Homo sapiens: one gene and its partner. The protein of the gene in region 1 purifies or fractionates together with the protein of each later gene. This does not show direct contact. Each region holds a gene or a part of one and is shown on either strand. Other genes may lie near its edges.

Evidence for each region. Proteins that work in one complex are often made in the same cells at the same time.
Region 2: the proteins of OCLN (region 1) and DNAJC13 purify together in Homo sapiens (affinity purification with mass spectrometry; 2 studies listed by BioGRID and IntAct, with this or other methods). This does not show direct contact.

The regions. Positions count from the first base shown.
Region 1 is NC_000005.10:69,495,790-69,502,819, forward strand, and holds part of OCLN (occludin), read left to right. Parts: intron 1-7,030. UniProt on the Homo sapiens protein: May play a role in the formation and regulation of the tight junction (TJ) paracellular permeability barrier.
Region 2 is NC_000003.12:132,497,472-132,504,501, forward strand, and holds part of DNAJC13 (dnaJ homolog subfamily C member 13), read left to right. Parts: intron 1-1,654; coding exon 1,655-1,839; intron 1,840-2,262; coding exon 2,263-2,337; intron 2,338-3,322; coding exon 3,323-3,442; intron 3,443-4,817; coding exon 4,818-4,997; intron 4,998-5,742; coding exon 5,743-5,910; intron 5,911-7,030.

The DNA.
Region 1 (7,030 bases):
GAGGGACAGGGAGGGCATCTCCCAGAAGGTGACGTCTGAGCTGAGACCTGAACAGCAGGTGTCTGTTGTGTAAAAGATCTGGGCTTTCTAGACAGGAAATTGCAAGATCAATGTCCTTTTTGGATTGACACCTTTATTGTAGACAGCAATTCTCAAAATATGTGATGTGTTTAAAAATCACCTGGAAGATTTATTAAAAATACAATTTCTGACACAGAGTCTATTACAAAATCTGCCTAACTTCAAATTTTTAGACAATTTACTAATGATGTGCCTGTAGTCTAAATCATTTAATATAAGGCACAACTTAAACTTTTTTTTTTTTTTTTGAGACAGAGTCTCGCTGTCTCCCAGGCTGGAGTGCAGTGGCACGATCTTGGCTTACTGCAAGCTCCGCCTCCCGGGTTCACACCATTCTCCTGCCTCGGCCTCCCGAGTAGTTGGGACTACAGGCGCCTGCCACCATGCCCAGCTAATTTTTTGTATTTTTAATAGAGGCGGGGTTTCACTGTGTTAGCGGGGATGGTCTCGATCTCCTGACCTCGTGATCCTCCCGTCTCGGCCCCCCAAAGTGCTGGGATTACAGGCGTGAGCCACCGCGCCCGGCCACAACTTAAACTTTTTAAAGGCAAATTGACAGTTACTGCATGTGCTCTAAAAGGAACAGACTTCTCTTAAATACAATAAAGTTTATTTTTCACTTATTGACAGTTTTCTTTAAAGAATAATTTGAGGCCAAAGCATTTTCAGACTATTTTTTCTTTTTTTATACTTTTTTTTTTTTTTTTTTTTTAAGATAGATAACGGAGTCTTACTCTGTTGCCCAGCCTGATCTTGAAGTTCTGGGCTCAAACAATCCCTCTGCCTTGGCTTCCCAAAGTACTGGGATTACAAGTGTGAGCCACCTTGCCCAGCCTCAGCCTGTTTTTTTCATCTTAGCTTAGTTTTCCATTAAGACAGCTTTTGGTCAGTAAACATTGTCAAGGGGAGAACACTTTATATTTTATCATTAGCCCAAGATGCTGGTTTTCAGATTAACATATTTGACAAGGATCTATCTGCTGCTTCCCTTTTGCCCCCGACTCTAATTTAGCTGTCTGACTTCTGTCCTTGTCACTCTCCTGACATAAGTTCCTGTAGGTGATAAGTGGCCTCTTCATTCTCATTTTTTCCTTCACTCAACACATGTACAGATTGTTAATGTTGCTGTGCTGGGCATTGGTCCTCTTTCACCTTTGGCTGCTGGCCTTAAAGCACAGTCACAGATTCACTTTGAAAGAGACCTTAGAAGTCTTCCAGTCTGGTCTCCAAAAAAATATCAAATAACTTAAGCTTTGCATAAATTGCATGAGCTCAAATTGTTGTTAGTTATTTTCGGAGAGGGTGTGGGGTCAGGGTGAGGGAGAGGCTTCCTAACATTGAGATGAAATCAGCCTGTGGTTTTTGGAATTTTTTTTTTTTAACCATTTCTAGGATAACAAAGACAGCTCTTCATATATTTCAGGGCTGCTAAAGCGATTCTTCTGACGTTAAGTTCTCCAGGCCAAACATTTCCTGTTTTTCCAATCATTTGTCTTAAGACATGGTTTTTCTAGATTTTTTTTTTTTTTTTTTTTTGAGCCAGAGTCTCACTGTGTCGCCAGGCTGGAGTGCGGTGGCACAATCTTGGCTCACTGCAACCTCTGCCTCCTGGGTTCAAGCAATTCTCCTGCCTCAGCCTCCCAAGTAGCTGGGATTACAAGCACACACCACCATGCCCAACTAATTTTTGTATTTTTAGTAGAGACGAGGTTTCACCGTGTTGGCCAAGATGGTCTCGATCTCCTTGTGATCCACCCGCCTCGTCCTCCCAAAGTGCTGGGATTACAGGCGTGAGCCACGGTGCCTGGCCAGCTTTTCTAGATCTTTAATGATCTTAGTCACCCTCCTGGAGAGGCACATAGTTTAGAATGTGATGTACAAATCAGGTTTTGTTTGTTCTTTTTAATAGCATATTATTCCTAGATATGAGCACTATTTCTGTGAATAAAGTTTGGGATAGGTTGTTAGCTTTTGTTGAAATTCTTACCAAAGAAATGCACCTTTAAAAATGAACCACTTTGGGAGGCCGAGGCGGGCGGATCACGAGGTCAGGAGATCGAGACCATCCCGGCTAAAACGGTGAAACCCCGTCTCTACTAAAAATACAAAAAATTAGCCGGGCGTAGTGGCGGGCGCCTGTAGTCCCAGCTACTTGGGAGGCTGAGGCAGGAGAATGGCGTGAACCCGGGAGGCGGAGCTTGCAGTGAGCCGAGATCCCGCCACTGCACTCCAGCCTGGGCGACAGAGCGAGACTCCGTCTCAAAAAAAAAAAAGAACGATTATTAAATTAGTTCTCCTCTATACTGTACTATGGAATTGACTTTTTAAAAATTCAGTTTATGGCTGGGCATGGTGGCTCATGCCTGTAATCCCAGCACTTTGGGAGGCTGAGGTGGGTGGATCACCTGAGGTCAGGAGTTTGACACCAGCTTGGTTAACATGGTGAAACCCCGTTTCTACTAAAAATGCAAAAATTAGCCTGGCCTGGTGGCATGTGCCAGTAATCTCAGCTACTCAGGAGGCTGAGGTGGGAGAATTGCTTGAACCTGGGAGGTGGAGGTTGCATTGAGCCGAGATCACGCCATTGCATTCCAGGCTGGATGACAGAGCAAGACTCCTGTCTCAAAAAAAAAAAAAATCAGTTTACATTTTAAAAATGACTCATTTATGCCACCAATATAGTCACCCTTCAGTATCTGTGAGAGGTTGCTTCCAGGACCCCCATGATACTAAAATCTGAGGATGCTGAAGTCCTTGTTATAAAATAGCTTTGTATTTGCATATGGCCTAAATGCTCTTGTATACTTTTTTTTTTAATTGTTTTTTTGAGACAGAATCTCACTCCATCATCTAGGCTGGAGTGCAGTGATGCAATTTTGGCCCACTGCAAACTCTGCCTCCTGGGCTCAAGCGATTCTCCTGCCTCAGCCTCCTGAGTAGCTGGGATTACAGGCACCCGGCACAATCCCAGTTAATTTTTGTATTTTTAGTAGAGACAGGGTTTCACCATGTTGGCCAGGCTGGTCTCGAACTCCTGACCTCAAGTGATCCGCCCGTCTTGGGCTCCCAAAGAGCTGGAATTACAGGTGTGAGCCACTGCACCCAGACCTCTTGTAGACTTTAAATAATCTCTAGTTATAATACCGTATACAATGTAAATACTATGTAGAATTGTGATATTGTAGTTTTAAAAATCTATTTTTTGTTTTATTGTTTATTATTTTTTTAGACAGGGTATTACTGTTACTCAGGCTGGAGTATAGTGGCATGATCACTCCAGCCTCAACTTCCTCTGCTCAAGAGATCCTCCCATCTCAGTCTCTTGAGTAGCTGGAACTTACAGGGATGTGCCACCATGCCTGGCTAATTTTAAGAAAAATTTTTTGTGGAGATGGGGTCTTACTATGTTGCTGTGGTCAGTCTTGGACTCCTGGGTTCAAGTGATCTTCCTGCTTCAGCTTCCTAGAGTGTTGGGATTACAGGTGTGAGCCACTGTACCTGCCCTGTAATTTTTAATTTTTTTTTCCCCTGAATATTTTCTGTCTGAGGTTGGTTGAATCAGAATTTAAAACCCATGGATGTGGAGGGTCAGCTGTATTTGAAAATGGATACAATATACCTAAGTGCCTAAGCACTGAAATTTCTTACTTTCAGGATAACCACCTTATGATGAATGCAGTTGCCCATTTTCTTGAAGACTTTTTCTTGTGGTTTTTTTCTTTCTTTTTTTTTTGAGCCGGAGTCTCGCTCCGTCGCCAGGCTGGAGTGCAGTGGCGTGACCTCAGCTCACTGCAACCTCCTCCTCCTGGATTCAAGCGATTCTCCTGCCTCAGCCTCCTGAGTAGCTGGGGCTACAGGCGCGCGCCACCAAGCCCAGCTAATTTTTGTATTTTTTTAGTAGAGACAGGGTTTCACTATGTTGACCAGGATGGTCTTGATCTCTTGACCTCGTGATCCACCCGCCTCGGCCTCCCAAAGTGCTGGGATCACAGGCGTGAACCACTGCGCCCAGCTCTTTAAGACTTTTTCTTATCCCAGTGCAGAGGTCAGGATTATTCCCGCATTTGAGTGCACTTAGAGGAGATAAGGAATTTGTCTCAGATTGCGAGCCAGTAAATGGGGGCTGTTAAAACCACTAGGTTGTTTCAAACTCATCATTCTGACATTACAGAGATCTTGCTTAGTGTTGATGGCCCTAGCCAATGGGTTAGTTATCCTTTCCAGTGTGTTTGGTCAGCTGCAAATCTGGATAAGCGTGTCTCCTCCACTTTGTCTGTGTTTACCAGTGGAGACCTCCCACCAGGTGGACATAAATGGTTCATTCTTTTGTGCTAATTGGGTGCCGTAATCCAGCCCCTTGGGAATCTGCCCACCCACACAAGGATGTGCTCAAGATTTTCAGGATTCTTTCTCTCTGCATTCCCTGAAGAGGAAATAATAAAGGAGAAAATAAAATCCACCAGTTTGGTAACCTTCCCAGAAAAGGAAATGAAGTTGGTGTGGCATGACTTGTTCTTAACGAGCTTTCTTTTCTTTTTTTTTTTTTTGAGACGGAGTTTTGCTCTTTTTGCCCAGGCTGGAGTGCAATGGCGCAATACTGGCTCACTGCGAACTCCGCCTCCCAGGTTCAAGCAATTCTGCTACCTCAGCCTCCCAAGTAGCTGGGTTTACAGGCATGCACCACCACGCCCCTCTAATTTTTTGTATTTTTAGTAGAGATAGGGTTTCACCACATTGGTCAGCTGGTCTTGAACTCCAGACCTCATGTGATCCACCTGCCTCGGCCTCCCAAAGTGCTGGGATTACAGGCATGAGCCACATGATTTGGTTCACAATTTAAAATCCGTGCTTTTGGGGAGACGTGACAACTCTGAATCCTGGAAATAGCAGTTTGAAAAGGGATCTTGTTTGAATTTTTGACAACTTAAGACTGAGTCTGGATTAATTTAGAGTTTCCAAAACTACCACTGAACCTAGAATTTGGGGATATTTGACATTCAGCTTCAGAACTAGGATCCCACATTTAATAGTGCTTAACTTCAGATTTTCTGTTTTACTTTTTTTTTTTAAAGGAGTCTTGCTCTGTCACCCACGCTGGAGTGCAGTGGCACAATCTTGGCTCACTGCAACCTCCACCTCGGGCTCAAGCGATTCTCATGCCTCAGTTTCTCAAGTAGCTGGGATTACAGGCACGTGCCACCATGCCCAGCTAATTTTTGTATTTTTAGTAGAGACGGGGTTTTGCCATGATGGCCAGGCTGGTCTCGAACTCCTGACCTAGGGTGATCCACCTGTCTCCACCTCCCAAGTGCTGGAATTACAGGTGTGAGCCACCTCACCTGGCCTAAATTCAGTATTCCTTAATGTTCTTTTTCTGAAGACAATCTGGACTTTTGCCTTTTTATAGTACCATAACATTTTCGCCTAAATTGCTCATTTGTATGTGTGTTTCACCATTACTAGAATATAGAGAAATTGGCCAGGTGTATTGGCTCATGCCTGTAATCCCAGTACTTTGGGAGGCCAAGGCAGGTGGATAGCTTGAGCTCAGGGGTTTGAGACCAGCCTGGGCAACATGGTGAAACCTTATCTCTACTAAAAATACAAAAATTAGCCAGGCGTGGTGGCATGTGCCTGTAGTCCAGCTACTTGTGAGGCTGAGGCAGGAGGATTGCTTGAGCCTGGGAGGCAGGTTGTAGTGAGCTGAGATGATGGCACTGCATTTCATCCTGGGCAACAGAATGAGACCTTGTCTCAAAAGAAAAAAAAAAAAAGTATAGAGAAATTGACTTGAGTGCTAGTTACAGGGCTGTGTACACTTATGATTTGTGCACTTTTCTCTATGGTATACTTTAAAAGTGGCTTTTAAAAATGTAGAAAAGTCATCTTCCTTCATGTCTTTGGAAAATTATGCTAATTGTGTTGGTGTTATTAACATTCTATATATTTCCATCTTTGAGGATTTATCTAATACATAGTTGGGCAGGGTTTAATTCTGAGAGATTTGAAATACACTGTCCTAAAGGGTATAGAAGAGAGTTGCCAGGTGGGGCGTGGTGGCTCATGCCTGTAATCCCAGCACTTTGGGAGGCCAAGGAGGGCAGATTGCCTGAGCTCAGGAGTTTGACACCAGACTGTGCAACATGGTGAAACCCCATCTTTACTAAAAATACAAACAATTAGCCGGGCGTGGCAGCGTGCGCCTGTAGTCCCAGCTACTCGGGAGGCTGAGGCAGGAGAATCGCTTGAAGCCGGGAGGCGGAGATTGCAGTGAGCTGAGATCATGCCATTGCATTCCATCCTGGTGACAGAGCGAGACTCGGCTCAAAAAAAAAAAAAAGAGTTGCCATTAATTTAAAAAAAAGTTTTAAGAGTCTGAATTGATGTACTGTTGTTAATATATTAATGTATGATTGTACAGACCGTATTAGAAAAGGAAAAAAAATCAGATACTTTAATGTACTCATTATAGATGTTACTCAAGTGTCATTCAGGGATCATACCTTTTAAAGTTACTCTGATACTTTTCCGTTACCTTCAACTTGAAAGCACAAGAGGTTTTGCAGGCAGAGATATCCATGGTCCAATCTGGTTCCTGTAAACATTCAACAAATTATCTGGACGTCTACTATGTGCCAGGCATTGATTTAATCAGTGAACAAAACATGCAAAAATTCCTGCTCACATGGAATTTACCTTCCAGTAGATCTCAAAGTTCCCTACTCTACTAATCACTGGTATAACCTGGAAAGAATTTATTGTTGGTTCAACATAGCTAAGGAGTGGCATGAAGTTCTGTAGCTGATGTGGGAAGTACCTTGCCAGTGTCTCCAGCACTGGGTTTTCTAGAATAATCCTCAAGCTTTATAGGTTAGGGGGTTGTGTGTTTACCACATCTTGCTGAGACTTGTCTTTTTCCTGGAGAGCTCTCAGTGCCCATGGATCCACC
Region 2 (7,030 bases), on another chromosome or scaffold:
CTAAAGACAAGAGATGGTGTTGCAGTTTAAGTATTGGAGGGGACAACCTGAGGATCTAGCAGTTGGATTATTAAAGAGAGCAGTGATTAGTTGATTTACTTTTACATGAGTTTAACAGAATACGTTTATAATACATTTTAGATATATGGCTTTTACTAATCAGAATGAGTTTGGAAACCTTTTTCAAAACCCTTGGTTGTCTTTTAATGCTGATAACTAAATTATTAGCCACAAGATACAGTTATGGCCCATCCTGGTTTCTCTGTTATCAAGGTCATCTTTAACTTTTCCCAAGAGGGGTTTATACCCAAGAAGCTCTGAGGTGGAGGTCCTGATCTGACAGGACTTAGTTATTCACTGTTCTTTCTTATTACGTATGTGTCACTTTTTTTTTTTTTAAAGGAAAATTAGGACCTGTTCCAGGGGGCCTTTTTTTTAAAAGCCAGTTTAGAAATGAGTTTTAAGGCAGATTATTGGTCAGCCTCAAAAGTCAAAAAGATTTATGCTGATTTCAATTGGAATTATAGAGATACTTTTAAAGTCACAGCCAATTAATTTGCATCTCTTTGCCTAATAGGTTAGATTGAAAAAAGAAGATGGAAAGAACAGAGTAATTAGGCATGTAGGTTTACTAGCTTTCACTTTTAAATTTGGTTATTAAAACATGGAATTAACTAAATGTAGTTTAAAAGTTAACTTTCTGTTTTGTACTTCTAGTAAGAAATTGTATTATTTTCAAATTTAAGAAAATACTGGTAAAACTTTAAGATAACTGGTAAAATAGATACCAGTTATCTTTAAGATAACTGGTAAAATAGATACTGGTAAAATAGATAAACAAGGGCACTTGTTATCCAGAAAACTTAATATAAAATATTCAGTGTCATGTAAATGTCTTCTCAGTCTTTTTTCTTTATAAAGATGTGCATATAATTGATATTAATAGAATTTCTGGTGCATTTGCTGTACCTTGCGTTCTGTGATGAGGTGAAAAGTTACAAAGATCAGCATAGAAAGTAGGTATTCTGCAAAGGATCAAAACTATACACCAAGTGCAGTTAATTTACCAGAAAATGTTATTTTTCTAGTGGAAACATTTTAGAAAAATCAACCAAGTTTACTAGAAAGGAAGGATCCAAGGGATTTTATAGTAGGTTTAATTTCTTTTTTTATCAACTGGCATTAGGAGGCATTTAAGATGTTAAGATAAAATATTTTATCTTTTTTTTTACGTTTTATTTTATTTTATTTTTATTTTTTTTGAGACGGAGGCTTGCCCTGTCGCCCAGGCTGGAGTGCAGTGGTGCCATCTCCACTCACTGCAAGCTCCACCTCCCGGGTTCACACCTTTCTCCTGCCTCAGCCTCCCGAGTAGCTGGGACTACAGGTGCCTGCCACCACACCCGGCTAACTTTTTTGTGTTTTTAGTAGAGAAAGGGTTTCACTGTGTTAGCCAGGATGGTCTCAATCTCCTGACCTCGTGATCCACCCACCTTGGCCTCCCAAAGTGCTGGGATTACAGGCATGAGCCACCATGCCTGGCCCCATTTTTATTTTTTTAAGGCAACATATTCTTGAACATGGTATCAAAATTGAAACCACAACATAATCAATTTTGTTTTGTTTTTCTAACACTAACCATTGGTTATTTCAGATTTACAGCCTTATAAATATGCAGGATACCCCATGCTTATTCGGACTATAACAATGGAAACTTCAGATGACCTCCTTTTCTCAAAAGAATCACCATTGTTGCCTGCGGCTACAGAGCTAGCTTTCCATACTGTCAACTGTTCAGCCCTCAATGCTGAAGAGCTCAGAAGAGAGAATGGACTAGAGGTAATACGGAGTGACCTTTGTGCTTTTTAAGCCAGTTTACACACATTATATGACTCTTGGCAGTGAAGAATTCAGCAAGTACAAATGCAGATTCTTTAATTTATTTCAGCAGATAACACAATATTTTCCATATTCTTATACCAAATTAAAGGTAGAAATGGAGCTTTATTTCACAATGTGAGTTGGAAAGTATTGGGTTCAAAACCGATAATGGTAATATTGTTTACAAAGTAGCTTATTAGAAATGCTTAAAAGGAAACTTTTAGGAGTCCTTTGTTTACTATTTATTAACAAATGTTGATCAAACATTTATGTATCAAATATTTAACATTAAAGGGTTATTTATATTTTATTACTGCTAGAAAAGGCCTTTCAGACTTGAAGTCAAAATGGAGAGTTAATAGCTGACTTCTTCCTCTGCAGGTGTTACAAGAGGCATTTAGTCGCTGTGTGGCTGTCTTGACTCGTGCTAGTAAACCAAGTGACATGTCAGTACAGGTGAGGCTAAAACCTGTGGTTCCAAGAAAATTGCACTAGTTCAATGGTTCAGACTTTAACATATCTGAGAATCAACTGGAGGGCTCATTAAACTGTAGGTTGCTGAGCTCCACCCCACCCCAAGTTTCTGATTCAGTGAGTCTGGGGTGGTGGCCTGAGAGTATGTTTTTATAACAAGTTTCCAAGTGTCATTGATGCTGCTGGTCTGTGTATCACACTGTAAGAAACTGTACTAAAGCACTTGTGATCTGTTGGCTTACGTTTTCTTTCTTAGAGAATAGTTTATTGAACCCATATGTTTCCATTACCCAGCTTAATGCCATTCTTGTTTCACATATCTTCCATCCCTCACTCTCCTATCTCTAGTATTTTAATTGGCTTAACATTTAAGGTTGTAAGATAGGAAATTCATCAGGAGTTCATTAAGAGCTTTGTAGAGCGTGTCTTTCTATTTGACCTTTTGCTTATGCCAGCAAAATTCAGAATATAAAACGAGTACTGGCTGTTGAGTTCCATCCTCTATTTTGAAGTCCGTTGTGTAAACAGAATTGTGATATTCTGCTATGTTAATAAACTATACAAAATTACCTTAATCCAGAGGCCAGCAAACTTCTAAAATAAAGGTCCAGGGAGTAAATATATGAGTCTTTCAGGCTTCATACAGTCTCTGTTACATTTTCTTTTGTGACTTTTTTACAGCCCTTTAAAAATCTAAAAACCATTCTTAGCTCTTTGGCAGTACAAAGACCATGGTCAGTTTGGCCCATGGGTTGTAGTAGCTGTGGTTTGCCAACTACCCCAGCATTTATAGGAAATCTTAATGAGAAAGACTAGTGATCTAGTAAAGACATTCTGTTTAATTTTGGAACATTGTATATACCATTAAGCATTATTCACAAATTTCTGCTGGTTTGATTTCTATGTGTTAAATAAGGAATGCCTATGTGACTCTACTGGTTTTTTTGCTCTGTTGTGTTGTCTGCAGGTGTGTGGATACATAAGTAAATGCTACAGTGTGGCTGCTCAGTTTGAGGAATGCCGAGAGAAGATCACGGAAATGCCTAGCATCATCAAGGATCTCTGTCGGGTACTATATTTTGGCAAGGTAGGGTTAATCTTTAATGCTTTCTAGATACAGACAGCAAAGTGTCTTTTTGTCAACTAGCCAGTTCCTAATGTATAAGCACATTGTTTTCCCAAAGTTATTTGTAAGTAAAATTATTTGGATTTCTAAAAGCATTTTTCACAGAAGCCTTGCTGTAAATGGAGGCTTTGCTTCTAGGCTGGCCTACAAAGAAAAAGACTAAAGTGATACATCTAAAGGGAAGTGGGTTCCATCTGAACATTAGAATGAGTGGCAGGGAGAAAAGAGAAGCCTGTAATAAATAAGTCTTTTAAAAGCAAAAGGCCAGCCCGGTGTGGTGGCTCACGTCTGTAATCCTAGCACTTTGGCAAGCCGAGGTTGGCAGATCACTTGAGGTCAGGAGTTCAAGACCAGCCTGGCCAACACTGCAGAACCCTGTCTACAAAAAAATACAAAAATTAGCTGGGTATGATGGCATGCGCCTGTAATCCTAGGTATTCGGGAGGCTGAGTATTTGGCTGAAGAACAAGCAACTCCAGAAAATTCAACCATAAGGAAAAGTTTAGCTGGCATGCTGACACCCTATGTTTCTGTGGCTAGTGTGACTGAGATATATGCTTCAGAGGTAGCCTGTGCCACTACACTCCAGACTGGGCAAGAGAGTGAGACTCTGTCTCAAAAAAAAAAAAGAAAAAAAAACAGGGCCATGTAAAACCTGAAAACTAGAGAGTTCGGCACTGCTTGGTGGGAAAGGCTTTAGAGATCTGAGAACTTACTATTTCCTCCCAATCCAGACCTGCTGAGGAAGGTTGACTGTGGGTAGATGAGATAGATGACTGGGAGGGAGAGAGAAATGTCTTAAATAACTGGGCAGAGTGAGAATTGTCTTGAATAAAACAGGATCGAGATGCTGATCTAGTACTAAAGTATCAAGAAGTGAGGGAATTGATGAAAATATCTCCTCTACTATATCTACTTAATGTCCTTAGAAGTATTTGATTACAGAATAAAAAACTGACATAAATAAATCTTTTAACAACTGCACAAAATATGTCGTTACATTTAAGATCACTAGCGTGTAAGTTGCTATTGATGCCATGTCACTATTTTTAAAAATTAAAAATACAAGAAGTGAAACAGGAAACTATTCCCAAGTCTTCTGACATTAGCCTTAAAGGTAGTAATTCTGGTATCTCGTCATGAGGTCACTTTTAATTTTAGGCTTTAAAGGATGTAGGATTCAGATTTAAATTGGAATTGAAAATGTAAGAAGAGGTAAACATTTTACAAAATAACGTGGTTGGCTTGACATACATGCACAACCAGTTCCTCTTGGGAGCTTTTTTTTTTTTTTTTAACTCTGTAACAACTAATGCTCTCATTTTTATTCTCTCAGAGTATTCCCCGCGTAGCTGCTCTTGGGGTAGAATGTGTCAGTTCTTTTGCTGTGGATTTCTGGCTACAGACACACCTATTTCAGGCTGGAATTTTGTGGTATCTCCTTGGTTTTCTGTTTAATTATGACTACACACTAGAAGAGAGTGGCATTCAGAAAAGTGAAGAAACAAACCAGCAGGTAACTTTAACATTGCTTTAATATTGAATTTGAACCCAAACCTTAGGTTGGTGTTAAACTAATCCAAACCAAAGCTGCTATCCAGAGTCCCCAGAGATAAATTGTTTTTCAGGAAAATTAGGTTTTTTGCTTTTTAAACCTAATCACTTACTTACAAAACTTTTAGTTGTAATTGCTTATGCTTAAAGGATTCCAGGCAAGGGAATTTGCAATAGCATATACTGGACATAATTTAATAATTTCTTAATTACTCAGAGTCAACTTTATGATGGCAAAATTATGGTTGTGTAACACAGGACAATATAATGTTACCATCAGGCAGTTGAGGCTAGCTCCCCTAAACACTTGAGTACTTGTCTGATTTTTATAGATATTTTTCTGTCTCTTCTATGTGCTCTCATTTATTGCTCATATTGTAAATGTGTGCTTCTAGCAGGCAGGGCTGCCTACCTATCCCCTACTCCCCACATTACCACCAAATGTGCTTCTTCCAGTTGTCTGTGAGATATACTGCATTGGGTATAAGTTAGTACATAGATTCTCCTGGTCCTTCTTATAAATAAAAAACAAGCCCCAACACATAAACTTTCTGATGTTTACCTCAGTGGTAGGTACTCTTGTACCCTTTTGTTGGTTGACTTTTTACTCCTTAAATATGTTCCATATAGTGTGATTCTGTAAAATTATAGTATTACCTATGTAAGATAACAGATCTACTTTAACAACTTAATTTTTTTTATAACAGGAGGTAGCAAACAGCCTTGCCAAACTGAGTGTCCATGCTCTGAGTCGCCTTGGAGGGTATTTGGCTGAAGAACAAGCAACTCCAGAAAATCCAACCATAAGGAAAAGCTTAGCTGGCATGCTGACACCCTATGTTGCTAGAAAACTTGCTGTGGCTAGTGTGACTGAGGTATGTGCTTCACAGGTAGCCTGGGTTTTAATCAATAGTGCAAGATCCTTTAAGCAGTAAAGTAGTACAATAATATTGATCTAGGGAACCTAAAAATTAAGAACGTTCACATGTTTGTTCTCTCAAGCAAGAAATTCACTTTATAATGGATTGATGCTAATGATGTCAGTTCTACAAGTCCAGTTTTTGCAAGGGCAAATTAACTTTGTTTCTCAGCTGTGGAGCCTATCATAATTCTTACCAACCTTGAGTCACAAAGGGACAGGACGAGAGAGTGAAGTTGGAATGGTGTTTCACAATGGCAGACTACTGGGAGACAGGAGACCCAGAGTCTATTTCAAGCTATTTATTGTAAGCCATAGCTTATTCAGACACAGGGTTAAAATCCTGAAAGTAAATACATACATGCACATATACATGTATATGTATCTATGTACATACATAGATGCATTACAAAAATCAGTATGACATGATAGATCTCCCAACCTCTTTAACTTCTTTTGCAAGGATTATTGAGAAATAATCTGAGAATGTAGCACTAAAGAATTTGATAAACTATAGAAATCAGTTAAACAGGTTACTATTATCCTTTAATTATAAAAAAAAAAAGAGTACTAAAAGACATTAAAATAAATGAAGACACTAGATCCTATTTTTGGTATAACAAAATAAATGGATTGATAGATTTGTACCCATATGTTAACTGTAATTATTCCTGAATGGCATAATTATAGGCAGTTTTTCTTTTGTTTTCGCTAAGGATGAACTGTGACTTTTGTAAGTGAAAAAATCCTCAGGTTTCCAAAGTATTTTTACAACTTTTAAACAGGTTATTTGTTTTTAATCCAATGTGATTGAGTCCAATTTTCAGTGCTTGCCATGCTTTTCAGTTCCCATGTGTGAAAGGCAGGAGCTCTAGATGCTACTGGTTTTTTTTTTTTTTTTTAATTTTGTTTTTGTTTTTACTATTTTTCCTAAAACACTAGACGACCAGGGACCACTCCTGATGTTAGTTATTTTCCTGGACTTTTTGCTCACCAATGTGATACATTTTGCTGACTGAAAGCATTCTCTTCAGAAATGCCAACAAGTTTGGGATTAACCTTTATAGCCACCCCCA